Regions from separate parts of the Homo sapiens genome. Here region 2 is linked to region 1. Evidence: fine-mapped expression QTL. Tissue or cell type: macrophages. Region 1 holds a variant in brackets; the other region holds the start of a gene. All regions are shown on one strand. Distances are between the middles of the regions.

What was found. PIP is the estimated chance that this variant, and not a neighbour inherited with it, causes the effect.
Region 2: RPTOR starts here. The variant in region 1 is fine-mapped to the expression of RPTOR in macrophages (Nedelec 2016, PIP 0.95). The same link has a PIP of 0.9 or more in monocytes, monocytes after LPS, monocytes after Pam3CSK4 and monocytes after R848.

What each region holds. Positions count from the first base shown.
Region 1 is chr17:80,888,237-80,896,236 of GRCh38, forward strand. It overlaps RPTOR (regulatory associated protein of MTOR complex 1), which reads left to right. Exons shown (of 34, transcript NM_020761.3): 18 at 3,484-3,601; 19 at 4,493-4,633; 20 at 5,471-5,629. It overlaps LOC124904075, which reads right to left and starts at 3,935. Exons shown (of 2, transcript XM_047437253.1): 1 at 2,024-3,935; 2 at 1-212. The coding sequence starts at 2,508. The coding sequence ends at 188. The variant A/C (reference allele first, on the strand shown) is at 3,963.
Region 2 is chr17:80,540,675-80,548,674 of GRCh38, forward strand. It overlaps RPTOR (regulatory associated protein of MTOR complex 1), which reads left to right and starts at 4,164. Exons shown (of 34, transcript NM_020761.3): 1 at 4,164-5,117. The coding sequence starts at 4,956. It also overlaps the pseudogene RPL32P31. RefSeq lists enhancers at 3,858-4,684, 4,018-4,377, 4,658-4,757, 4,685-5,511.

The DNA of each region.
Region 1 (8,000 bases):
CCTGAGTAGCTGGGACCACAGGCGCGTGCCACCATGCTGGGCTAATTTTTGTATTTTTTGTAGAGATGGGGTCTCGCTGTGTTGCCCCAGGCTGGCCTCAAATTCCTGGGCTCAAGTGATCCACTCTGTAATCCCAGGCCTTGGTCTCCCAAGATGCTTCCCAGGACGCTGCTCGGGCCTGCTGTGGTCACAGGAGCTGAGTTTTATGATGCCTGAGCACAGGTCACAAGACAAATATTAGCCAGTGCTGTGTTGTTGGAGCGGAGTGGGTGGCCCTCAGGGCAGGTGGGCAAGGGGTAGAGGCGAGGTGGGCCAGTAGCCCATGGTCAGTGCAGCCGTGTCAACACTGGGAAGTGTGTGGGCCCCCAGCGGGGCAGGACATGTGTCCAAGAAAGATGTCCTTGAGTCCTGGCACCAGTTCACGGTTAGAAACTAACCATGTGCTACAGACGACACCCCTGCAGGGAGGGCTGCACCCACCCAGAACACACTTGTCAGGCACGTGCCACGTGCCGGGCCGGCTGGGGCCTCAGTGACCCCGCAGGGCACTAACCCTGCCTCTTCTCTCAAGAAAGTTACCCCTGGAGCTGGGGGAGGGGCTGGGTGTGAGAGTGGTGGGCCGGGGTGGCAGCTGAGCAGAGCCAGTATGGATGGGGCTGGGGGCACAGGGAGGCCTTGCCACAGGGAGAGGCCCAGTGCAGGGGCTGTGCCCATCAGAGGGCGTGGGCACAAGAGGCCAGGAGGGCAGTGGGGCAGGTGGCCCAGCCAGGCACAAGCCTTGTCGTTCGTGATCAGAGGCCTGGAGGGGTTTGGGGGCAGGACCTCACCTTCGGCTGCCCAGGTGAGAGGGGCCGCTCGCCCAGCTGCAGGGACGGCGCAGGAGGGAAGAGGCACCAGCACTTTGAATGCGGAGCTCACAGCACTTGCTCACAGGTGGAGAGGGTACGAGAAAAGAAGAGGACAGGGAATCCTGGGGGTTTGGGTCTGAGCAACAGAAGAGCAGAGTTGCCCCTCGTTGAAGGGGCCAGCCATGAAGGAGCAGGTTCCAGGATCACGCATGGACTCTGAAGGTGGGGAGCCGACAGGAAGGGCTGAGCTGACAGGTGAAAGTATGAGTCCAGGCAAAGCTGCCTCCCTTTCGAGGAAGGCTGCTCAGCCCCAGCCAGGGAGCAGGAGGACAGACAATGGCTTTGACAAGCGACCGGTCAGAGGACCTGGGAAGCCTGGCCAGTGTGGAGCCCGTGGCCACTAATGTGGCCTCCCCGTCTGTGTGCTGCTGGGGAGCCCTCAGGGGGAAGGGGTCACATGACAACACCAGCCAAGCTCATCTTGCAAAAGCTGAGAGAGAGGGGAGCTCCCACACCCCTGGCTGAGCACCTCTGCCAGACCCTCTGATGGGTTCTGCATGAATATCCTAAAGAAGGCCAGTGCGTGTGTGTGTTGCTGTCAGAGCCCAGCTCCATTCAGGAAGGGCAGGAAGGGTCCAACGCAAAGGAGAGCTCTTTGCTGTGTGCCAGGCAGCAGCCTCCAGAGCGAGGCCCGCCATCTCCAGCAGGATGTGCGGCCTCCAAGGGAGGCCCCCGTACGCAGCAGGATGTGCGGCCTCCGAGGGAGGCCCCCGTATGCAGCAGGATGTGCGGCCTCCGAGGGAGGCCCCCGTACGCAGCAGGATGTGCGGCCTCCGAGGGAGGCCCCCGTACGCAGCAGGATGTGCGGCCTCCGAGGGAGGCCCCCGTACACAGCAGGATGTGCGGCCTCCGAGGGAGGCCCCCGTACGCAGCAGGATGTGTGTTCGGGAGTGAGGGAGGCCCCTGTATGCAGCAGGATGTGTGTTCAGGAGTGAGGGATGTGCGGCCCCCGAGGGAGGCCCCGTGCGCAGCAGGATGTGTGTTCGGGAGTGAGTGCTCTCTGGACATTCCCCTTGAATAACAGACGTGGCCCCTGTTGGCCTCCCCTGAATCGAAGGGCCCACCACCTCGGTGCACGTTAATCCATGCCAGCTCCCAGCTCTGGCTTTTCTCACCTGATGTCAGAAGGAAAGGGAAAAAAATCGGTGCTTTCTGAAGACAGGTGCAGCCTTGATCTTCCCTGGAAGGGGCCCAGTGGGTGTTCGCTTTGTCGGAGGCCCCGTCTCGGCAGTGCCTCACTCCTCTTGCACAGGGAAGGCAGCGGGGGTTCTGTGGTTTGCCAGGGGAGCCTGGGACAGTGACTTAGGCAGTTGGAGACGAGCGCCAGAACCGGGGCGTGGGCCATGGCCGTGAAGACGCACACTGGGCCATGGCCCTTGGTGCCCAGCAGGGTGGGAGGGGCGGGTGGAGGGTGATGCCAGGGCTCCATTCTGAGCAGTGAGAGACTTGCAGTTCCATCGGCGCAAATCAAGAGGGCGCTGCAGGCTGAAGGGAAAGTAGACGGTGCCCGCAGTTCATAGGGCAGGGAGAGTTTGGGGTGCAGGTGAAGAGCCGGCAGCTGGACAGCCAGCCTGGACCTAGGAGAGTGAGGGGCCGGCATCAGGGAAACCACAAAGCATGATAGGAGGAAGCCCGGGGCATGTAAGGCTGGGGTGGGAAAGTGCGTGTACAGAGAGTGCGTAGACGGAGAGTGGGGTGGCCACGAGAAGACCCTGGTCCCTGGTGGGCGCCCATCCAGAGCCTGCTCATCCAGCCGCTGTGGAGACAGGGGCGTCACGCGACTAGCAAGGGGTCCTCTCACAGCGCTTGGCTTTCTGCTAAGAATCCGTATTTTTTCTTTTCAGAAAAAAAAAAGGCAGAAAAAGTTGTCGTAGGGAAAAAAACGTTCTTTCCGCTTTTTAAACCTACATCCCCCTTCTGTTCCCCAGTGACTTCTAGGATCTCCAGCTGTTCCTGTCACAGCACTGAACTGTCCTAAAAGAGAGGCAAATTGTGTCTGTTCCCTTGGACCAAGGCATTTGGTCCTAAAGATGATGTTTTAGTTCTACAACTTTTCCCGTTCCCTCTTAGGGACTAGAAACATCTACCAATGAAAGTTTCACATGTGTTGAAAAGAGCAGGCTTCGGCTTGTCCGCTGCACTCGGCCCTGGGGCGCTCAGATTCAGAAAGGCCGCCAGCCATCGGGTGTGATCTAGAGCGGCGTTTTCAGCCAGGGTCCCAGTGGTCACCGTAAGCGAGAGGCTGTGAGGCCTCCTACCTTTCCCTCTCTGGAGTCCTGTGACTCACCGTGTCCTTACGAGACCCCCGATGCGTCGTGCGCCTCTAGCAGTGGGGAGGATTCTGGCAGGCATTCTGGGCTTCCCCCGTGAGCCAGTGGCCTGCCGTCTCCCAGCACTCTGCTATTCCAAGGCCTCTGCTCTGACGGTTCGAAAAGGGATGGTCCCTGTTTCTGATGCCAATTGCACGGTTTTGTCTTAACCTTTCTTTTTTCTGTTGGTGACTCAAGTCTCACTGCTGCTCCACAATCATTTTCCAGCCCCAGTGACTGTTATTGTCCCTTCTCCCTCTCGGCAGGAGCTGGTGGTGGCTCTGAGTCATCTTGTGGTTCAGTATGAAAGCAATTTCTGCACCGTGGCCCTGCAGTTCATAGAAGAGGAAAAGAACTACGCCTTGCCTTCTCCAGCAACCACAGGTATGGCGTCTTCTCCTGTGAACCCGCAGAGCACCTCGCCTGGCGGTTCTAGTGCAGGCCGCGGCCCAGTCTTGCTCACCCTCGCAGAGTCTAAGCGCAGGTTTCTCAGATACCTGCCGCAAGGGGTCCCTGTTTTTCTCATCTTTTTAGGCACCTGCCAGATTTAAAAGGGCAGGAAAGAGGGCCACACTGACCCTCTTACATTTTTCCTTTCTTTTTACCCTTTTTGGAAATTAAACTCACAGAGACCTTGAAGTATGACAAAACTTCTGCAGTAGGAGCTTGCGGAAAAGCGCAGGGGCCGTCTTCCTGCGATGAGTAATTTCATCACACTGCTCTTGGCTCCGTGGCTCGGTGAGTC[A/C]TGTCAGGCGTGCTTTCTCACACGTGTCGTTTTGACTGGAGAGTACAGTTCCTATCTCATCGCTGCCGGCAGCCCCTCCCGCTTCCACACAGCCGTCTCTGCCGTGCAGGGGCTTGTCATCAGCAGTGAGGCCTCACTGCTTCTAGGAAGCCCAGGAGGGGAGAAGGGTGAGCCAGACTGAGTGTGGACGGTCATTGCTCTGCTGCGGCTTCCCGGGGAGCACGGCTCACGGCCCACGTCACCATGCACCTCGTGTGCACTCGGACAGGCCGCAGCCACCAGCCTCTCCCCTGTTGTCTTTTGTAATTTAATATGCACAGAGCCACAAGCGGTTGTTGTTTGTCCAGTGCTATCCCGCAGAGCCTCCGCTCACGTCTGAGTCTCCCTGAGCTGTGCAGCCCCTGCTCTGACATTTGTTGCAGCACAGGTAGCAGCTGCCGTCACCGAGTGTCCCAGCTGCTGAGTGTCAGAAGACACGCTGGCCTCCACCTGGAAGCCCATTGTAATTTGTCTTTCTCCTTCTTTCCCAGAGGGAGGGAGTTTGACCCCAGTGCGAGACAGCCCGTGCACCCCCAGACTTCGTTCTGTGAGCTCCTATGGAAACATCCGTGCTGTCGCCACAGCCAGGAGCCTCAACAAATCTTTGCAGAACCTGAGTTTGACAGAGGAATGTAAGATCCTGGAAATCGGGTTATTGGATTGGGAGAGATTGGGGTTGTTTTTTCTGAAACACTGTATCTGAGTAAGCACCACTCTGCCCCTGCCCCTTCGTCTAAGTGCGTGCCCTGAAGTCCCATCTGCCAACATGGTGATGAGTCACCCTTCCAGACGTGAGCATGGCAAGGAGGCGTAGGCCAGCCCCCAGAATAGCCAGCGGGCCCGTTACCAATGCGGCAGGGAGCTCAAGCGCAGCCGCAGTTGAGGCGGTGGCTCCTTGGAGGGCTGTGCCCTGCCCCCGTCTCCCAGTAACCTGTGGTCTGCGGGTGGGGAGCTTGGCTCCCAGGGAGATCAGTGAGTGCCTGTGCCTGTGTGTGCGCCGGGGCGTGTGTGCCAGGGTGTGTGCGCCAGGGTGCGTGTGTACCAGGGTGTGTGTGCGCCGGGTGTGTGTGTGCGCCAGGTGTGTGCGCGCGCCAGGTGTGTGTGCGCCAGGGTGTGTGTGTGCTGGGTGTGTGTGCACAAGGGTGTGTGCATGCCAGGGTGTGTGTGTGTGTGTACAAGGGTGTGTGTGTGCCAGGGTGTGTGTACTGGGTGTGTATACGCGCCAGGTTGTGTCTGTACGCGCCAGGGTGTGTGCGCCAGGGTGTGTGTGTATGAGGGTGTGTGTATGTCGGGTGTGTGTACATGCCAGGGTGTGTGCGCACCAGGGTGTGTGTGTACCAGGGTGTGTTTGTGCCTGGGTGTGCTGAGCTTTATTTAGAAGAAAATATGTATCTCAGTCATGCCATTAACTGTAAGACCAAAAGGAGGGTCCCGGGAGCACCCCACTGACCCCGTTGCGTCTCGGGCAGCTGGTGGCGCGGTGGCGTTCTCCCCCGGAAACCTCAGCACCAGCAGCAGCGCCAGCAGCACCCTGGGCAGCCCCGAGAATGAGGAGCATATCCTGTCCTTCGAGACCATCGACAAGATGCGCCGCGCCAGCTCCTACTCCTCCCTCAACTCCCTCATCGGTGAGTCCGCCTGCCCCTTTCTGCTTCCGAGGGGCCCCGAGGGTCTCCTCCCCACACAGAGCAGCACAGACCTGTGTCTGCATCAGGTCAGTGGGTGTCAAAACTGTCTGTTCAAAAGAAAGAATAAAGGTCAACAGGACTGCGAGGCAGGGAGAACGTTTTGCTGGGGCAAGCGGGAAAGTTGACATCACTGTTGTGTTGGGGTAGTATTTTACAGGCTGCTCCGGAGCCATCGGAGCTGGCCAGTTTGGCTGGGTGGGAAGGCTGCCAGAACCTTCCATCTTTGTTCCATAGACGGGTGAGAGTTCTTCATGGTGCTGGACACCCTGGTGATGCAGAACGGTGGTTCTCAGCCGGGGGTGGTTTTGCCCCCCACGAGCAACTGGGGTACAGTAGGGGTGCTCCTTGTCCCAGTGGGTGAGGCCAGGAAGCTGCTCACATCCCCTGGTGCCCAGGACAGCCCCCACACAGTGTCCGCAGTGAGAGGCGGAGGGCCCTGCGGTCGGGCTGGGGGCTGTCATCCCCGCCCTGCTCACCTGCGGAATCTCCACACAACTTTCCCTCCATCCCAGCAGCTTGACGCAGCACTGCCTGGAAATGGAAATCTGACGGAAGGGTCAGATTCTTCTCTTGTTCTGCCATGAATGGTGTGTGCCTGGGTCCTACCACCAGGATTGCTGTTGTAAAACAGGAGAAGCAGGAATTCACCGTGTTTTCTTATTGTGTAGCTATGTTCATCTTCACACTGCTGGTAACAGATTTAGGGCTTAACCAAATGAGCCTCATCTCCTCTTGTTCTGACTATCCAGAGTGGCTTACCGGCTTCATTTGAATTTTTTTCATGTTAAGGAGCATTTTAGCCATGTAAAAATTTACAGAGACTTATATAAGAGCGCTGCGTGTGTGTGTGTGTGTGTTGTGTTCCCAGCTTAAGGAATTACAGAGGTCGAGCCCCAGACCCTACCCCGGTCCCATTCCCTCTGGTGACATTACACTTTCCCTCCCTGGCCATGAGCCCTGGCACACACGTGGTGCCCACTTAGAGGCCTTTACCTCCTATTGGCGCCGTCGCACGATGCGTGGCCCGCAAAGCCCGTTTCTTTGGCTCTGACTTCAATATGTATCTTTGATGGTCATCTAGGTTTTGTTCCTTCACCTCCGCGATCTGCCGTGACTCCATTATCCATTCTCCTGTCTGGGGACAGTGAGGCCGGTTCTAGTTTCTTCTTGCCTTTTGTTCCTTTTCTTAATAAGCAAACTCAGAATTCAGCCCCTGCCACCATGGAGCCCCACATCCAACACACCCTCACTCGCTGCACCCAGCTCTGCTGGGCCCCAGCCTACCCGGCCCCCAGCCTGGGCATCGGTGGGGAAGCTCTTCTCCGGCATATGGTGGCCGCTCCCCTCTCATTCAGAGCCCCCATCTGGCAGCACCTTCCCAGAAGCCTCCCCAGCCCCACGCCCCACCTGGAATCAGGCTTCCCCAGCTGCCCTCTGACCCTGCTCCCTTTTCCTGCTTTATTTTTCTCCTGAGGACTGTGGACTGCAGACGTGCTGTACGTGTAACTTGTTCATTGGCCCGGCCCATCTCTCTCCCCTGGAGCTTGAGAGCCGCACGTGCAGGAACCCAGCCTTGTTAACCACTGTCTCCTCCCACCCTGTCCACACCCAGTGCCTGGTACGCAGTAGGTGCTCAATACACATAAACGGGCACGTGTGTGGTGCGTGTTCTTCAGCGTGGATACACGTGAGTGCCTCTCGCCACCTTGCCTCAGAGTGAAGCTGCTGCGTGAACGGTGCCTGCACCTTCAGCTTTTGTAGATGTCGCCCCAGGCCTTCCACGGGATCCTCTGTTCTAAAGCGCAGGCGCCCCCATCTCGCCACTCTCTACCACGCCGGTCTTGGCCAGCCTTTGTCTGTCTGATAGACACACCTGGTGTCTCCTTGTGGCATGAATTTGCATCTGCCTTGATTGCAGTGAGGTTACAGCCTTGCAGCCTTACAGACTCGCCTTGTGTCGTTTATCTTTCTCTGAGTAGTTTGTAATCAGCATTCATCACAGTTCTGGGTGCTGATTCCTGGCTGAATATATCCATCGAAAATGCATCTAATCTATGACTTTTTATGATGCCTTTGGTGCCACACAAGCTTAATCTTTTAGTTTCTCTTTTTCTTTATAACTTGGGCCTTTTGTGTCTTGTTTTTCCTATTCTCAATGTCCTAAACATATTCTCCTACATTTTCTTCCAAGATTTAAAATTTTCCTTTTTTGTGTTCATGTCTTAAGTATATCCTGAACCACATTTTGTCTCTGTGGTGAGGTGGGGATCCAGGTTGTATTTTTTCTTTATGCCACCCCAGACCCTTCATC
Region 2 (8,000 bases), 350 kb before region 1:
ACTGTAAGAGACTCATGGAGCAGGTTGTTGCCAACACCCTCCCCCACTTTCTTTCTTAATTTCTGCATTTTTTAAAAATTAAGATGGGATCTTGGTCTACTGACTAGGCTGGAGTGCCGTGGTGCAATCATAGCTCACTGAAGCCTCAAATTCCTGGGCTCAAATTCCTGCTTCAACCTCACAAGTAGCTGGGACCACAGGTATAAATATTAAATTTTTTTTTTTGGTAGAGACAGGGTCTCACTATTTTGCCCAGGCTGGTCATGACCGTTTTCATAGCTTGAATCAAACCAGGTTTGTGTGTTTTCTGAGATTCCTAACATTTTGTTTTTAAGATTAAAGTATTTTAGCTGGACACGGTGGCTCATGCCTGTAATCCCAGCACTTTGGGAGGCCAAGGCGGGTGGATCGCCTGAGGTCAGGAGTTCAAGACCAGCCTGGCCAACATGGTGAAACCCCGTCTATACTAAAATTACAAAAATTAGCCAGGCGTGGTGGCGGGCACCTGTAATCCCAGCTACTCGGGAGGCTGAGGCAGGAAAATCGCCTGAACCCGGGAGGCGGAGGTTGCAGCGAGCCAAGATTGCGCCACTGCACTCCAGCCTGGGCGACAAGAGCAAGACTCTGTCTCAAAAAAAAAAAAAAAAAAAAAGGATCTTATTTAAAGTCTCTGTGGACAATAGATGTCCTTGCTTGTGAAGAACTGGAGACATTGGAAATTGGAACTGCAGCCCCGAGTGGCCAGCCCACCACATGCCACAGTCATGGAATCACCCAGGTGAGACAAGTCAGCCCTTGAATTTCCAGGCTGCCATTACTCACAGATGCTCACTGCCTTTCAAAAACCTAGAGCCACTTCCAAATGCTTGGCTGGGACTTGAAGAGAATCATCCGTGACATACTAGAACGAGGTTTCTTTTAAATGTCAAGATGCCATAAAATGATTCAGGCCCATCCTTGAACCTTCAGGGTGAGAGCTGAGCAGTCACAAGCCCCTTTCTGGTCTTTACATGAATCACAGAATTTCAAACTGGAAGGATCCTTAGAAATTCGCCTTCTCCAAGTTCCTGATGTCACAGACGTGGAGACCAAGGGTGGAGGAGGGCAGAGGCTTTGCTGAAATCTGCAGGAATTGGTGGCAGGTTGGGGACCATAGAATGTGTGTGTGTCTTCATCCTCAGTCCAGGACCCGAGTGGACCCCTGGCTCGGGGTCACATGTGTTAAACAGTAGAGGGTGTGTTTTGTTCTGCTGTTTTGAGGAGAAGGTGAGTCTCTTTCTGCTTTGTCAGATGGAAGTCTGGACAATTACTTCATAGCATTCATTCATTTGCCACACATATTGATTAAGGGCCCAATATGGGACCCGAACTGAATCACTGCAGGAGACTTTAGAGCGAATATTGTCTAAGACCTCCAAGTCTGCCTGGCTGTGAACTATCCTCAGAGCGACCTGATTTAAGAATTCAGATTCTGGCTCTCTTCCTTGGCGCTGCCTATGGAGGGGGCAGCCATCTCCTCCTTGGCATCATGGCCGCCCTCAGACCCCCTGTGAAGCCCAAGATCATCAAAAAGAGAACCAAGAAGTTCATCCGGCACCAGTCAGACCGATGTGTCACGATTAAGCGTAACTGGCAGAAACCCAGAGGTATTGACAACAGGGTTGGTAGAAGGTTCAAGGGCCAGATCTTGATGCCCAACATTGGTTATGGGAGCAACAAAAAAACAAAGCACACGCTGCCCACTGGCTTCTGGAAGTTCAGTCTACAACGTCAAGGAGCTGGAAGTGCTGCTGATGTACAACACTTCTTACTGCGCTGAGATCGCTCACAGTGTTTCCTCCAGGAACCGCGAAGCCACCACAGAAAGAGCCGCCCAGCTGGCCATCAGAGTCACTGACCCCCATGCCAGTCTGCGCAGTGAAGAAAACGAGCAGACAGCTCATGTGCATGTTTTGTGTTTAAATAAAACTGTAAAAACTGCAAAAAAAAAAAAATGCAGATTCTGAATCCCGGTCTCCCTGCTCCCCGATCTGGGGCTCTGGGTTGGAAGCTGGGCATCCTGAATTTTAGTTTCCTGGGCGATTCTGACCACCTGGTGGGTTTGGACTTCAACGTGCTCACTGACACCTTCGTTTAGAATTTCAGATACGAAAAATGGATTTCCCAAGGTCACACACGTTATAGGTGAGGAAACTGAGTCTCACACAGATTCAGTGGGCTTTCCCAGGTCACAGAGCTAGTTAGGGATGAATGGGTTTAGCGTTGCTGCTTTTCTGTAACTGTGACTTCCTGCAAGAGCTGCTGGAATGCAGCTGTCTACAGCCACCGGAGGTGGGGAGCAAGGTGACAAGGCAGAGGACAGGAGTGATTTTGTTGCCTTCAGATGAGAACGGGGTCTTCCTAAGACCCTGCATCCCTGAAGCCTCTGCTGGTAACTGTGAGGATAGTCTCTGCCAACAGAGAGGGTGCCCTGAGTTTCAATAGGAGAATTGGCTCCATGGGGTGTAATAACCAAACGAATGTGCGGAATGACAATGATTTAATCCTGTAGCCTTTATTAAAGGCTTGCTTTGTGCTGGGTGAGAAAGGTCTGGGATTGTATTCTTCATTCTCATTTTGAAAGGAACACAAATGCCATCAAGATTTTGATATGGATGGCCACATGTGTCTAAGCCCCGGAAAACCATCCTGAGAGATCAAGACCATCTTGGCCAGGATGGTCTTGAACTCCTGACCTCATGATCCACCCACCTCAGCCTCCCAAAGTGCTGGGATTACAGGCGTGCACCACCACGCCTGGCCTCGTTTTATTCTTATTTATTTATTTATTTATTTATTTATTTTTGAGATGGAATCTCACTCTGTCACCCAGGCTGGAATGCAGTGGTGTAATCTCGGCTCACTGCAACCTCTGCCTCCCAGGTTCCAGCTCTTCTCCTGCCTCAGCCTCCCGAGCAGCTGAGACTACAGACGCACGCCACCACGCCCAGCTAATTTTTGTATTTTTATTAGAGACGGCGTTTCACCATGTTGGCCAGGCTGGTCTCGAACTCCTGAACTCGTGATCCACCCTCCTCGGCTTCCCAAAGGGCTAGGATTATAGGCGTGAGCCACGGTGCCCTGCCTACATTTGGTTTTATAGTCCACCTTACACAGTTCTCTATACATTGTAAATGAGCCAAATTTCCTGAATTGAAAAAGAGAGTCACACAAGAGGCTTGCCTCCACGCACAGACATGTAGTTTTAGATGTCTGCACGTGAAGCTATATCAAAATAAGAATAAACTACTGCTACCAAGAAGTGGGAAAAAAATTTAAAAAGGATAAACTGCTCAGAAAACGAAACAGATTAAACAAAAAATTGTATTAGATGAAATTTTTTTTCATCGAATCTTGCTCCAGACTCTTCTTCTGTTGCTTCAGACCCTTCTTCATCTGAAGAGTCTTGCTCTGTCTCCCAGGCTGGAGTGCAGTGGCACGATCTTGGCCCACTGCAACCTCCGCCTCCCGGGTTCAAGCAATTCTCCTGCCTCAGCCTCCTGAGTAGCTGGGATTACAGGCGCGCACCACCACGCCCAGCTAATTTGTGTATTTTTAGTAGGGACGGGGTTTCACCATGTTGGCCAGGCTGGTCTCGATCTCTTGACCTCGTGATCTGCCCGCTTCGGCCTCCCAAAGTGCTGGGATTACAGGCGTGAGCCACGGCGCCCGGCCTTTCACTTGGTTCTCTATGAAAAAATTAAAGAGAAAATCTGATTGACACTGTGGAGGACACTACACTCCAAAAAAAAAAGTACTATATTTTCTAATATTATCAGTGCTTTTTAATATTTTCTAATATTATCAGTGAAGCTTTTGCCGCTTTTTCAAAATCTGGAAGAAACAAGGCGGTTGATTCCTTTAATTTCAGGAGCATGTAACTTCATTTATAATGACAATGTTTTTGAAAAAATAAATTAAACCGACAGTTTCATTTGTAGGATTGACTTTAATAACACGCCTCTACTGAACAAATGGCGATTAACTGGGGAAAACGGAATTATGGTAACCGAGGTAACGGGGTCGGGGACTCTTTCTCCTTCGCTGCATGCTGGGTGGCGGGGAGAGACCGCTCTGAGGAGGTTTGGTCTGTCGGCCACGCCGTAGGCCGCGGTGCATTCTGGGTCCTGGCAATATGGCGTCCTCCTTGATGGGCTGATGAGATGAGTTTCACTGTAGCTCCAAACCAGAGGGCAAAGCTCCCATGACCCAATAAGCCCACATTGTCCCTTTCCTCCGTGGTTCCGTGTCGCCCGTTTCTCAGGACTCGTTCTCAGGCAGGAGAGAGCCTCGGGGCTGAAGGCCAGGACCAGCCAGGCCGCGCGGACCTGAGGTTGAGGAACCGGGTGCAGGCGAGCACGATGGGCCGGTCGTGGCTCTGGTTGCAGCAGCTCAGACGAGTGCGGGACCCGCAGGGCTGAGAGTGGCTGGAGGAGACCCAGGGCCCTTTGAACCCGATCCCTTGGCCGGAGACCTCAGCCCAGTCGGCCCAGTGGGCGAACCGGCACCAAGAGCGGCCTGCCTGTCTTCGGAACTGCTGAGGCGGTGGAGGCCGAGAGCAGGGTCATCGTGAGGCCTGAAGTCTCTTACGCTTTTGGCAGCTCCCCTCGCAGCCCCTCTGGAAACGTACAGCCTCAGGAGCAGCCAGTGGCTTGGGACCTGGGGTGGTGTGTGTCTGCGGAGCTTCTTGGGCTGCCCCATTTCCTAGCGGCCCCCACCTCCCCACTTCCCGCTCAGAGTTAGAGATAAGGATCTCAGACTTTTGCCTGAGTAAGGGTCTCCGCACTCTTTATCCATTTGGTTTTCGATTTCCCGTTTTTGTTTCTTATTTCACCAATTCTGGTACACGCTAGTTTTTAAGGCTGGAGGTTCTCGAGCGCTTGCTGCCAAGGACTCCCCCACCCCCTCCCCCACTGATGGAGTCCGAAATGCTGCAATCGCCTCTTCTGGGCCTGGGGGAGGAAGATGAGGCTGATCTTACAGACTGGAACCTACCTTTGGCTTTTATGAAAAAGAGGCACTGTGAGAAAATTGAAGGCTCCAAATCCTTAGCTCAGAGCTGGAGGATGAAGGATCGGGTAAGTGGATTCTGAAGGCACCCCTTGAACTTGGTAGTTTCCCCAACAAAGAAAGTTTACAGCCCGAAAAGTGTCCTTGGGAAAGCGCCGACATTTCCCCCTAGCCACACGTTGTAAGTCAACTAGAAAGCAAAAGCCATTTCAGACTGCAGTTTTTGGTTGAAAATGGAAAATGCTGTTTTGGTTAGTCATTATTCACTGGGTAGTGTTAATTCAATTCCAACTAAGTTCTAATTCAGATAATAAAAGTTAAGCAAATTTGAAAATAGAGCATTGCGAGTATTTACATGCTCTTTGGCATACTACTTAGTTCTGTAAACACTTAGAGGAAGGACAACGTGCGATATAATCTTTATACCCACATGATTAGTCTACTTTTTAAAATATCCAAGCTGGGTGAAGTGCAGAAGTCTGATATACTATGCTAGGAAATGAGATTACTGGAAAATGTTCAACTAGTAACAAATTAGTGCAAAGTTATTATAAAGTTACACTGAACTTCATTCTAGTCTTCTAAACAATTTCTCTTGAAGCTAGATTTTCCTCCTTTTATGTAGTGTCCTGTTGCTGTAACTTGGAAACAGGATTTCTTTAATCGTGAGTTAGGGTATGAGGCGTCGAGACTTGGGTGCAGGTTTTAGGGTGTCCGCATGGTGTTTGGAGTGTGGAGAGTGACTCACAAGCAGCTGGTAGGAAAGAAAACAGCCGAATTTTGTTGGATTTGTCCTTCATAAAACACCCATCTATTTCCTGGCCTCAAAAGCAAAAGGGTAGTACTGCTTCTCCTCTATGCACACTTATAATTTGTCTTTTTGTAAGTTATTTTCTCCCTCCAGGCTGCTTTTATTTGCACATTTCAGTGGTATAAAAGAGGAAGTTGGTGTTACAATGTTTGATTTTCTCTAGGCTTATGTATATGTTTATGGAATATTATTGTTTTTTAGTATATGATGTTGAACATATATAAGATTACACTTCTGGGCTGGGCGCGGTGGCTCACGCCTGTAATCTCAGCACTTTGGGAGGCCAAGGCAGGCCTCCCAAAGGCAGGCGGATCACCTGAGGTCAGGAGTTTGAGACCAGCCCGGCCAACATGGTGAAACCCTGTCTGTACTAAAAATACAAAAATTAGCTGGGCTTGGTGGCAGGTGCCCGTAATCCCAGCTACTCGAGAAGCTGAGGCTGGAGAATCGCTTGAACCTGGGAGGCAGAGGTTGCAGTGAGCCGAAATCGCACCATTGCACTCCAGCCTAGGGGACAGAGTGAGACTGTGTCTCAAAAATAAATAAATAAATAAAACTTCTGGTAACTCTAGTCAGTCAGTCAGTAGTAACCAGTTAGCTACTGACTTGGCTTACTTCTAAAAGGTTAGGAAAATTTGTTTCATCCAAAAGCATTTTAAGGAGTTAAATAAGTTAGTCATTGGGGGAGGTTGTATAAATTCTATCTTATGGACATCTTTAGTAGTAACTATATAGTTAAAAGCTTTTGTGGTTGCTATACATATATGAAAAGACTTTTTAAAAAATTCTTTGTGGAGGGCAGTTTTTTTGTTGTTGTTATTTTGAAATGTGGTTCTCTCTGCTGTCCTAAACCTATGTTCCAACAGTTTGAAACTGATTAATGGGTATACGTTTGACCTTTTAATTAAAACATTAATTTGTGAATGATCAACATTCCCTAATAAGCTTTTCACAGGTTGTTAAGAGAAACAAAAGTTCTGTGACTCTTAGTGACTACTGAGATTGCTGCTTAGAAAGGAGCTGGGGAGAAAGTTTGCTGTATCTGTTTTTCGGTGGAGAAAATCAGCAGCTAACATCTTCAGTTGAGTGTGTGGGAGTTTGGAATCTTGTCATCTCTTCCCTCTTCCAAAGGTCAGGTCCTTTGGAATCTTGTCATCTCTTCCCTCAAGGACCGTATCACACATGCTATAGGACAGAAGTTGCAAACTCAAATGATATTGAGTGGGGATGGTAGCATAAGAGAATGAAACAGGCCACATTTAAGAAGAATAATGGCATAGGTTCAAAGATAAAGACAAATGGCAGCTGACATTTGGCACAGTGTGTGTGACAGTTTCTGGAGGGTGGGAACAGGGGCTCCCTGATGCCATAACTGAAGGGGCAACTGGGCTATGGCCAGGCCTCTCTCTTTGTCTTTGAGAAGTCAGCAAACTTTTTTTTTCTTTTATTGTAAATATTCATACTAATTCAGATTTATTACCAAACACACTGTAGTCCAACACTGCAGGCTGAACAACCCCATTTGTGGAGTGTTTTTCTGTTTCTTTTTTTTTTTTTTTTTTTTTGAGACAGGGTCTTGCTCTGTCATCCAGGCTGGAGTACAGTGGTGAGATCACACGGCTCACTGCAGCCTCGACCTCCTGGGCCTGAGTGATCCTCTCACCTCAGCCTCCCCAGTAGCTGAGACTATAAGTGTGCGCCAGTGTGTCTGGGGTTGGGGAGTCTCACTGTGTTGCCCAGGCTGGTCTTGAACTCCTGGGATCAAGCAATCCTCCTGCCTTGTCCTCCAAAAATGCTAGGATTACAGGCATCAGCCAACACGCTCAGCCTGGGGTGGTTTTTTTTTTTTTTTTTTTTTTTTTTTGAGATGGAGTTTCATTCTTGTTGCCCAGGCTGGAGTGCAGTGGTGTGGTCTTGACTCACTGCAACCTCCGCCTCCCAGGATCAAGCTATTCTCCTGCCTCAGCCTCCCAAGTAGCTGGGATTACAGGCGCCTGGCTAGTTTTTTTTGTATTTTTAGTGGAGATGGGGTTTCACCATGTTGGCCAGGCTGGTCCTGAACTCCTGACCTCGGGTCGTTCACCTGCCTCAGCCTCCCAAAGTGCTGGGATTACAGGTGTGAGCCACAGCACCTGGCCCT